Homo sapiens: one gene and its partners. The protein of the gene in region 3 purifies or fractionates together with the protein of the main gene of each other region. This does not show direct contact. Each region holds a gene or a part of one and is shown on either strand. Other genes may lie near its edges.

Region 1 (3,651 bases), on a different chromosome or scaffold from region 3:
TTTTTTTTTTTTTTTAAGGGAAAGGCTCTTACTATGCTTCTCAGCCTGGTCTTGAACTCCTGGGCTCATGTGATCTTCCTGCCTCAGCCTCCCAAAGTGCTATGATTGCAGGTATGAGACACCACAACTGGCCTTCCCAGCTTCTCTTGAGAAAAAACAGACAATTTGGCAGAAGCTGGCTAGAACCCTGTGGACAGAGCATGACCTCCCCAGACTCCCTGACCATGGCCAGCCCTGCTGCTCTGAGCACCAAGGCAGGTCAGCTGGGGTGCCTGGCACCCGTGCCACTGCTTCTTAGGTCCAGTCAGCTACAGTTGCTTCCATTACCTGCCTGGGCTCGCTGGTGTCTGAATTTTTGAGCCTTGATCCAAGGTCTAATGTTCCATCATGGCCTCGTCACCCAACTGTTGCTGCCAGCCATCTGGCTTCTGTTCTCTTTATCCTGCTGTTGACAATCCTACCGCGTTCCTGACACAGTCCCCTTCACTTTGAAATTCTTCTCTGTGGCCTTGTAAGACCGGCCCCAAATCTTGTCAGCAAGAAGGCGAGAGAGGCACTCTCACTGCTTTATCTCATCTTGCTAGCTCCTCCTGCTCCTTCCTGCCCCAAGCACGGCATTCTTGTGGCAATGCAGGCCTCCGCGCTTCCCTCTTCTCCCTCTCTTCCTGAAACAAACCCATTCCACTGCCCGGACTCAACTACCCTTTTACAAATTCACCTCCCAAATCTACATTTCTAGTCCTGAGGTCACACCAAGCTCCCAGGCTGTCTAGGCCTTGCCTCAAGTTCTTGACATTCCAAACAGAACTGGTACTCTTTCTCCACAAGCCACCTCTACATCCCCAGTCCTCTACTTTTAAGAAAGTGATGACCACTTTCCCAGGAATGAAGATGGAAATCCTCTTTTCCTTTTTCTCATTCATCCTCTATATAACCAATTATGGAATCTTAAGAACTCTTCCTCTGAAGTGCCTCTCACCTCTTTGCTTGCAACATTTGCAATTACCCCCTTATGAATGCACGCCTAGACTTACCTCCTAATTGGCTCTGAGACTTTCCCCTCTGCACTCGGTGACTACTGGTGCACACACGGGAGGCACACACTGCCACTGGCTCAGTCACCTTCCCGGGCCCCCACTGACTCCAAGACGCTTTAGTACCACGCTGCTTCAGTAGACCTTCAGGCCCTCCACGATCCAGGGACAAGCTTCCTTTTTCTCGGCTTTCCTCACTATCCTCTCCCTGTTCGAGAGTATCTCCACCAGCACCGAGCCTCACACGGGCTGTGCCCTCCATCTTTGGAATGCCTACCCTTCTTTCTTGCTAAGCCCCTCCCAGGGCCAGCCCTTGTGCACCGGCTCAAGTGGACTGCTCTCCTGCCTCGCGCTCCTACTTTACACCTGCATCCAGGCCGTGTCTCTCACCTGGTCTATGGGATTCTTTATTTTTTAATTTTTTAAATAAGATTCGGGGTCTCACTCCATCACCCAGGCTAGAATGCAGTGGTGCAATCGGCTCAATGCAACTTTGAGCTCCAAGGCTCAAGCCATCTTCCTGACTCAGCCTCCTGAGTTGCTGGGATAAAGCATGAGCCACCGCACCTGCCCTGCAGGATTCTTGAGCACAGAATTCTGCTCCCACTCCATGAGCAGAGTATAGATAAGCATACTACATAAGCATACTGTAGAGCTTAACTCTACCTTGTACTAAAAGGACATCACTAATCCCGGAAGCTGCAGAGAGAAAACAAACCTTCTCATCCTTTGGGGGCCGACCCCGCTTCCGGGGACTTTGCTCTTGGGCTCTTTTCAGAGGGGATTTGGAGCCTCTCTCTGAAGAGCCTGAAGACACCCTCTTCTTTCCTTCTCCCATGTTCTTCTTCACCTTCCCTTCAGACAGGCTAAGTTTGCGCTTCTCATCACCTGAGTTTGGCCTACTTCTCTCCTCACTGGAATTACGTCGATTCTTGTCATCAGAAGAATTGTGGGATGACGTCTGAAAGTTTAATAATAATAATGATAACTACCACCACAGCTGCTGCCGCCATCGCCACCATCATTTACAGGTGCCATGTGCTGCTACAGGCACTCTGTGTGGTCTCCTCACAATGACCCTAGAAATAGATTCTGCTGTCGTCCCAGACATTGGGAGAAGCAGATTTAAAAAATATATATATCAAAAGTCACTTTCCCTATGTCCCAAAACTAGAAGAAAGGATTTAAATCTAGGCAGTATATGTATTTCAGAGGCTATGCTCCTAATCTGTGTGCTATGAAAGGAAGAAATGGCCTGTGCTAGACTCAAATGCTGAGATATTTCTCCTGGGTCCAAGCAATTTTCCTAAAAGCAACAACCTACTCCAGAAAGGTTAGCTGCATGGAGTTTCAAACTGATAAGCAAAACGCTGACACCTTAGAACTGAAGTAGCTTTCTCCAGTAGCATTTCAGAAGAACAAAGGTTTGCGTTTGGGTGACATTTAATCTGTTAGTTGCTATGCAAAAATCACCAGTCTGGCATTGGTAGAAAGTGAACATTGTGTCTCTCACCTGGTCTTTCCCTTTGGCTCTCCTGAGGAACTCTTCGACAGCATCTACCGCTTGCTGGAATCGTTTACCCTTGTTAATTTTTATCATTTCCTCTTTATGAGCATGATATGGCTTCAGCTGTTCCACTTTGATCCAGGCACTAGCAGAAAACAAACACAAAAAGGGTGTGAACCATATAGCATATGCCCTAAAGTATCAACAACCTCACTATGGCACGGTGTAAATATCCATTTGGTTTAACTGGACTTTGCAATAGGCCTTGCCATTTCTTTCAAAACATGCTATCAACCATCTCAGAGTCTTATGTCTAAAGTATATTTTCTTGAAACAAGTCAAGCAGAACAACCATCACCACCACTGCAGCAACCACAAATCAAGTTCCTCCAGTGAAAGCACTGTGTTGCAGATTATTTATTTCCACAATCGTCTATCAGCCTCCAATGCCCAACCACATATACGCTGCCACTTGCTCAGGGCAGAAAGAAATCTGGAGACCCTTTCCCATTCTCACCAGGCAGCACAAATGGCCACACACAGATCCCTGGGAATCAGGGTACCTGGAAATGTGATAGATGATAGCAGCATTACTATGCAGGAAAATGCCTGCTGCCTGTCAACAATGGGAACCAGATTTATGATCTGTTGATCCACAGAGAGTCAGGGATGTTACAGAGCTGAAGAAATGCAACATCTTCTAAAATTTGTGGTTCCTATGGATATTCACAGCCACTGAGCCTATATTTGTTCATAAATGATGGTAACCATGGCTACTAAACCACACAAAACACGGAACACATGGTTTGGAATAAGGGCAGCAGTTACAAAAGGAGGCATTTAAAAACAAGATGGCATGCTGTTTTATGATGTCTCAAAAAAAAAAAAAAATAGAAACAAGATGCTTGAGATTAAAGGTAGAAGAACATACACCTCCGATATGTAATTTTTAATTTCAACCATCAATGTGTAACACATGAAAGTGAAAGTAGTCAGCTGTCAATTCTGGGGTTTCTGATCTGTCACACTAACCTGAACAAATCTGCTGCAGCTGGCTTTCTATGGCTTCCCTGAATGGCATGCAGCTTATAGAATCCAAGCACAAAATAA
Region 2 (3,651 bases), on a different chromosome or scaffold from region 3:
GCACTTTGGGAGGCCGAGGTAGGCGGATCACCTGAGGTCAGTAGTTCAAGACAAGCCTGACCAACATGGAAAAACCCCGTCTCTACTAAAAATACAAAATTAGCTGGGCGTGGCAGCACATGCCTGTAATCTCAGCTACTCGGGAGGCTGAGGCAAGAGAATCATTTGAACGCAGGAGGCAGAGGTTGTGGTGAGCTGAGATCATGCCACTGCACTCCAGCCTGGGCAATGAGCGAAACTTTGTCTCAAAACAAACAAACAAAAAACAACAAAGGCCGGGCACGGTGGCTCACACCTGTAATCCCAGCCCTTTGGGAGGCCGAGGCGGGCGGATCACAAGGTCAGGAGATCGAGACCATCCTGGCCAACACGGTGCAAACCCCGTCTCTACTAAAAATACAAAAAATTAGCGGGGCATGGTGGCGGGCGCTTGTAGTCCCAGCTACTCGGGAGGCTGAGGCAGGAGAATGGTGTGAACCCAGGAGGTGGAGCTTGCAGTGAGCCGAGATGGCACCACTGCACTCCAGCCTCAGCAACAGAGTGAAACTGTGTCTCAAAAAAAAAAAAAAAAAAGACTGTAAACAAAGAGGTAACAGGCTGAGACGAAATATCACGGAGAATGAAATACTAGACTATGTTAAAAAAAACTTACAGATCAGGCAAAGAAAAAAAAAGAAAATCCTGTAGAAAAATAGGTAAAAAAATAGGAATTGGCAAGTCATAGAAGAACTAAAATGGCAAACGAACAGAAAAAGATGCTCAACTGCACCAAGAGTCAAGTAAAAATGGAAAGTAAAACAATGTCAATTTTTAAAAATCCATCAGACTGGCAAAGTTAAAAGAAAATTAATCCCATAAAAATTGCAGTGATAGCAGAGAATGGGGAGGAAATTTCCACACATCGCCGGGAATGTACATCTGAGTTTCCCATCTGGCACGCACTCTGGCCATGGCTCATGATGCTTCAGCAATATGCTATTTTGTCCTAGAGGTGAACTCATGCTTACTTGGCTGTCCCAGAGGAATGCATGTGTGCAGAGAAGCATGTGCAGGGACCCCCCCTACACCACTGAGGGGCAAAGAGGTTGAGATAGTGGCAGGCTCTGTGGCTCATGCCTGTGATCCTAGCACGGTGGGTGGCCAAAGCGAGAGAAATGCTTGAGACCAGGAGGTCGAGACCAGCCCTGGCAACACAGTGAGACCCAGTCTCTACTAAAAATAAAATTAGGGAGGCTGAGATGGGCAGATCATCTGAGGTCAGGAGTTCAAGACCAGCCTGGCCAATATGGTGAAACCCCGTCTCTACTAAAAACACAAAAAATTAGCTGGGAGTGGTGGCAGGCACCTGTAATCCCAGCTACTCGGGAGGCTGAGGTAGAAGAATTGCTTGAACCCGGGAGACAAAGGTTAGAGTGAGCCGAGAGATAGCGCCACTGCTCTCCAGCATGGGTGACAGAGCAATACTCCGTCTCTAAATAAATAAATAATTTTTGTAAAAAAAGAGAGAAACCATATCATTGCATTATGAAGTATTATGCGGCAGTGAAAATACATGATGTGGATCTCTGGCTGTCACAATATGATGTGTAGGTACAACAATGTCACATTGTGCACCTTCAGGATACACAATTGCCATCAAATGTCTCAACATACAAATAAAAGGACAGGCCAGGTGCAGGGACTCACACCTGTAATCCAAGTGCTTTGAGAGGCCGAGGTTTGGAGGATCATTTGAAGCCAGGTCGTCGAGACCAGCCTGGGCAACATAGCAAAACCCAGTCTCTACAAAAAAAAATTAAAAAATTAGGCCGGGCACGGTGGCTCACGCCTATAATCCCGGCACTTCGGGAGGCTGAGGCGGGCGGATCACCTGAGGTCAGGAGTTCAAGACCAGCCTAGCCAACATGGTAAAACCCCGTCTATACTAAAAATACAAAAATTAGCCAGGTGTGGTAGCATGTGCCTGTAATCCCAGCTACCTGGGAGGCTGACACAGAAGAATCACTGGAACCCGGGAGGTGGACGTTGCAGTGAGCTGAGATCGCACCACTGTACTGCAGCCTGGGTGACAGAGTGAGACTCCATCTCAAAAAAAATAAAAATAAAAAATTAGCCAGGCATGGTGGCACATGCCTGTAGTCCCAGCTACTCGGGAAGGCTGAGGTGACAGGATCACCAGACCCTGAGAGGTCAAGGCTGTGGTGAGCTTTGATTGTGCAACTGCACTACAGCCTGGGTGACAGTGAGACCCTGCCTCAAAAAATAAATAAAGGCCAGATACATTAAAAAGAATGAAATACATCTAAATGTGGCAACATGGCACAAATCTGAGATAGCTAAGTACACATGTGTATAAATACAGTGAGTGGAGCAGGGAAAGGCACTGAAGGACCCCTAACATTGGAGATGGGCTCCCTCTGGGTAAAGGGGAAGGAGGGCTGTGGTTTCCATGCACAGATGGTGGCTCAGAAGGTCTGAGATGCCAGGTGACCGACGCCAGGCAGGGAAAGTAAACCTTTGTGAATTGTACTGTTGTTTTACAGCTAAACGTGCTCCCTCCTTAAGCCTAAGTTTCCCAAGGGTAAAAACATGGTGAATTTCTCTTACGCCTAACACAAAATTATTCATGAAGTAACCTCTGAAAACAGCACTGTTTAATCAGACATGCCACTTTTTACCTCTTTGGGACAAAGCGAAGGACAAAATATTGAGCCTCAAGACTTAACCAGAAATGGAAGTGCCCTAGGTCACTGGAGGCTCCCTCCCTCCTAATGAGAGAAGCTGGCTGGGGAGAGACCCTTTCACTTTCAGAAAGGAAAAGTCTAGCAGAGCTGAAACCCAAAAGCAAAGGCAGCCGGCTGCTCACCTTGGGGGCCTGTGGAGTCTTTGGTTTCTGGAAGAACCTCGTGATTTCGGCCTTCTCTGCTTTAATGCGCTGTGATGTTAAGAGATGGTGATGAGAAAGAGGAGAGGAAGAGGAACAGTATGTGTTGCAAAACATGCAAAGGCCCCCAGAACCGAACGTCAAGCATTTTAGCTTGAAGGCACTACTGTGATTTTCAGCTCTCAAAACCCACGGACCCGCAACTGAGCCAGCCAATCTCAAAATGTCCAAGTTGCCCTTGTGGGTAGAAGTGCCAGGATTGCAGGGCCAGTAGGCATGTGACAGCCAGCACTGGGAAGAAGCAACAAGAACGCATCTAGACAGACTCGCCCTCCCTGCGGGCGCCATTTGGTTTCCCCAAACCAAGAGAATATTAGGTGACGGCTGTGGCAAGAATTCCACTTTGGGCATCTGCTTCTCCAACGGGCTGGGACGGGGAAGCTCTGTGGGAAACACTCTACCTTCTCTTCTTCTCTTAACCGTTTCTCTTCTTCCTTTTTCCTTTTTTCCTCAAGTTTAGCCCTGTGAGACAGCAAATGACATTTCAGCCGACTCTTTGCTTTGGCTCTGGAAGGGACCGCAGCACTCAACTGTTAGTATATGGCAAGTATTTCATTTTACATTAAATGAATATAAGTTATTTTCATGTCTAGTATAAGGCTTTTACATAGGTCTTCACAATAAAAATGGAAAACAGTCAATAAAATTCTTCCTGTGACTAGAATATATATAAAAAACTTTAGCCAGTCAGAGCACAATTAGCACAG
Region 3 (3,651 bases):
ATGCCTTCAGGCTTACTATAGCCACTCCCATCATGAAACCAATTATAATAATCCGACTTATACCATGCAAGAAAGATTAAATTAACAGTAAATCTAATAAATTACCATGGAATTACAAGTAAGAGTAGTTTGAAGTTTAAAAACTTTATGCAGTCCAGCAGCTTCTGCTTGTGCTAGTTTCTCTTCAGTCATTTTCACCACAAATTTCACAGTTGTGTCAGTATGATATTCTTTATAATCAGAAATTAATGCTGGTGTTTTATCTGTTCCATTTAGCATAGGTTCTAAAACCTGTTCTTTATATACCTATAAAGATTTAAAAATTAGTGATTCTTTTCATGACACACTCTCATGTTCTCATACTACAAGTCATACAGTCTTGAAAATTCTCAACTCTCATGGGGAATTAAAAAGGAAACCTCAATCTCTATCATCTCCTATCCAATCAGTATAGAAGGCAATACACAGGGATCTCGGTGGTGGGAAAAGACATAAGAAGTAATGGTGCTGACCCACTCATACTCTAAAGGGCAAGATAAAGGCTGAGTATGAAAAGGATGACATCAACTGGAACTGTCAAGAGGTGACATGCATACTTTTAGATTTGTAAAGCTGATGCTGACATGAATTTACTGACCATATTTACAAGAATTAAAAACACTGTCATATTCTACTCCTTTTATTTTAAATAAATACAAAGATAATAGTCTATAAAAGCCTTACCTAACATAAGTCATACTACGCTACTTAGATATAAATACTATTTAAATATTCAAAGCACAAATTCAACTGAAGGGTAAAAGAAGGTACAGGAATTTTTTAACACTACGCACGCTTAGGACCAACAACGGTGGAATCATCCTTACCAGAAAAAATTGCTTAATACACTGCCCTTCCCTCAGGCAGATCACATATTTACACTGACCTGTGTCCAAGTTCTAACTGGAAGCTCTGTAATTTCTACTGTGTTTCTGTCCACTACAAATATTTCACCACTGACTGCATACTGGTTTTGACCAAGTTCTTGAATCGTGCCTTTAAAGTTTTTGTAGTTTGGAAGCTGTAGAGAAAAAGGTAAATAGCATTGACTTCTCTCTTGAGTACCAGTACCATGAGTCTATGGTCTAACATTGACAGATTAACACAACTGAAACAGAATTTCTCATCCTCAATTGTCCCTTTCCAACTGATCAATTAAGCTTGAATTCATAGCTTCTGTTCATACAACCTGAACATCCTCCAATCTCAAAATGTTAGTATCATCTTTCCTAGTCTTCCTAGAACAGTACTTTCTTTCAGCCTACTTCCCCTACACCTACTTCTCTCCTAGATCAATATCCTTTAAATTCAAACTCCTTGGGCCTTACATTGAAAGCATTTCATAGTCTGGACCCAATCTGGCTTTCAATTTTTTCTCTAATGATTTGTCTTACAAAACCACTACTCTTCTCCCATATTTTGTTTGACTATTTTGAATATTCTCACTTTCACTCTATCCACAAGTCCTGACACATATTCAGGCCCAACCCCATTCCATTCATCATTCATCTACATAAATCTTACTCATCCTTCCCAACTGAATTACAAGTCCTCTCTCCCTCTTCTAAGTTTTTATTTGTTTTGAGACAGGGTCTCCACTTTGTCACCCAGGCTGGAGTGCCGTGGCACGATATCAGCTCACTGCAGCCTCAACCACCTGGGCTCAAAGGATCCTCCCACCTCAGCCTCCCAAGTAGCTGGGGTTACAGATGCGTGCCACCATGTCCAGCTAATTTTTGTATTTTTGTAGAGACAGGGTTTTGCCATGTTGCCCAGGCTGGTCTTCAACTCCTGAGCTAGTGATCTGCCCAGCTCAGCCTCCCAAAGTGCTGGGATTATAGACATGAGTCACTGCACCTGGCCTACTCTAAAATTCTTATTCGTTATTATCATTAAGAAATCGAGTATATAGGCCGGGCACAGTGGCTCATGCCTGTAATCCCAGCACTTTGGGAGGCCAAAGCAGGCGGATCACTTGAGGCCAGGAGTTCGAGACCAGCCTGGCCAACACAGTGAAACCCCGTCTCTACTAAAAATACAAAAATTAGACAGGCATGGTGGCGCACACCTGTGGCCCCATCTACTCAGGAGGCTGAGACAGCAGAATCACTTGAACCTGGGAGACAGAGGTTGCAGTGACCCAAGATCACACCACTGTACTCCAGCCTGGGTGACAGAGTGAGACTCTGTCTCAGAAAAAAAAAAAAAGAAAGAAAGAAATTGAGCATATAGCATAGGACATTTCTTCTGGCATACCAAGCAACTATCAATATCGTTTGTCACTGTTAAACTTCAAGCCTTGATGCTTTGATGTCTTGTCTTGACAACTGTTTAACTTTTCAAAGATAAAAACCATAGCTCTTTATCTCACCACTTAGCACAGTTTCATACACATAGTAGGCACATAAGAACCATGTATTGATCAAATACACTATCTTAACAATCTAAAATCCATTTAAAAATCCAAAACCATTTCAGTAAAACACTATCATTAAAAATTTGATGCTTATGTTAGAAATATTTTGAAGTACTTTGAAGTATTTAAGAGAAAAAGCAGAATATATGTCTTATTGCTAAAGAATAACTTTCACTTTAAAATACAAAAATGAAATAAAACTTGGAAAAATACATCAAAATATTGTCTCTATATTGTGGGTTTATGGATTTTTTTACTCTTTGCTTACCTATATTTTCTACAATAAACATTATCATTTTGGTAATAAAAATACACTTTTCTCCAGGTAATTTTAAATCATGGGGAGGAAGGAAGGACATTTTTCTTGGAGGAGGTCTGAGCAGAGTGAATGATACAAGAAAACAACAAACATAAAAAAAAAATGGGGATTTTTTTTTTTTTTTTTGGGAGACGGAGTCTCATTCTGTTCCCCAAGCTGGAGTACAGTGGCGCAATCTCGGCTCACCGCAACCTCCACCTCCTGGGTTCAAGCGATTCTCCTGCCTCTGCCTCCCAAGTAGCTGGGATTACAGGTGCCCTCCAGCACACCCGGCTAATTTTTGTATTTTTAGTAGAGACAGGGTTCTACCTGGTTTGGTCAGGCTGGCCTAGAACTCCTGACCTCAGGTGATCCACCCACCTCGGCCTCCAAAGTGCTGGGATTACAGGCGTGAGCCTGAGCAACACCTAATTTTTTTTGTATATTTAGTAGAGATGGAGTTTCCCCATGTTGGTCAGTCTGGTCTCGAACTCCTGACCTCAGGTGATCCATATGCCTTGGCCTCCCAAAGTGCTGGAATTACAGGTGTGAGCCACCACGCCCAGCCTTGGGGATATATTAAAATATATACAAGGTAGTTTGTTTTCTGTCTTTTTACAAATGGTACACTAATGAATACAATGTGTTTTTAAGCATCCTTACAAACTATTAAGCGGTAGTTTGAGAACAGAAACAAGGTTACACATAATTTTATCAGAAAAGGATTGTTTTCTAATAATATAGGGTTTAGAGGTTTGAAAACCTGGAATATGAGGTGTTTCTAAATTTAAATAAACAGTTTCTCCCCATGAAACTTACCTCCAAAACTCATTCCAAAGTTTATACTTTTTACTGTAGGCACATATCAAATTATACCCTAATTAGGTCTTTACGGTCT

What was found.
Region 1: the proteins of TOP2B (region 3) and GLYR1 fractionate together in Homo sapiens (co-fractionation; one large-scale study listed by BioGRID). This does not show direct contact.
Region 2: the proteins of TOP2B (region 3) and CHAF1A fractionate together in Homo sapiens (co-fractionation; one large-scale study listed by BioGRID). This does not show direct contact.

Annotation. Positions count from the first base shown.
Region 1 is NC_000016.10:4,830,227-4,833,877, forward strand, and holds part of GLYR1 (cytokine-like nuclear factor N-PAC), read right to left. Parts: intron 2,687-3,651; coding exon 2,548-2,686; intron 1,996-2,547; coding exon 1,753-1,995; intron 1-1,752. UniProt on the Homo sapiens protein: Cytokine-like nuclear factor with chromatin gene reader activity involved in chromatin modification and regulation of gene expression. Acts as a nucleosome-destabilizing factor that is recruited to genes during transcriptional activation.
Region 2 is NC_000019.10:4,423,090-4,426,740, reverse strand, and holds part of CHAF1A (chromatin assembly factor 1 subunit A), read right to left. Parts: intron 3,407-3,651; coding exon 3,346-3,406; intron 2,936-3,345; coding exon 2,867-2,935; intron 1-2,866. UniProt on the Homo sapiens protein: Acts as a component of the histone chaperone complex chromatin assembly factor 1 (CAF-1), which assembles histone octamers onto DNA during replication and repair.
Region 3 is NC_000003.12:25,619,757-25,623,407, forward strand, and holds part of TOP2B (DNA topoisomerase 2-beta), read right to left. Parts: intron 1,061-3,651; coding exon 926-1,060; intron 307-925; coding exon 106-306; intron 1-105. UniProt on the Homo sapiens protein: Key decatenating enzyme that alters DNA topology by binding to two double-stranded DNA molecules, generating a double-stranded break in one of the strands, passing the intact strand through the broken strand, and religating the broken strand.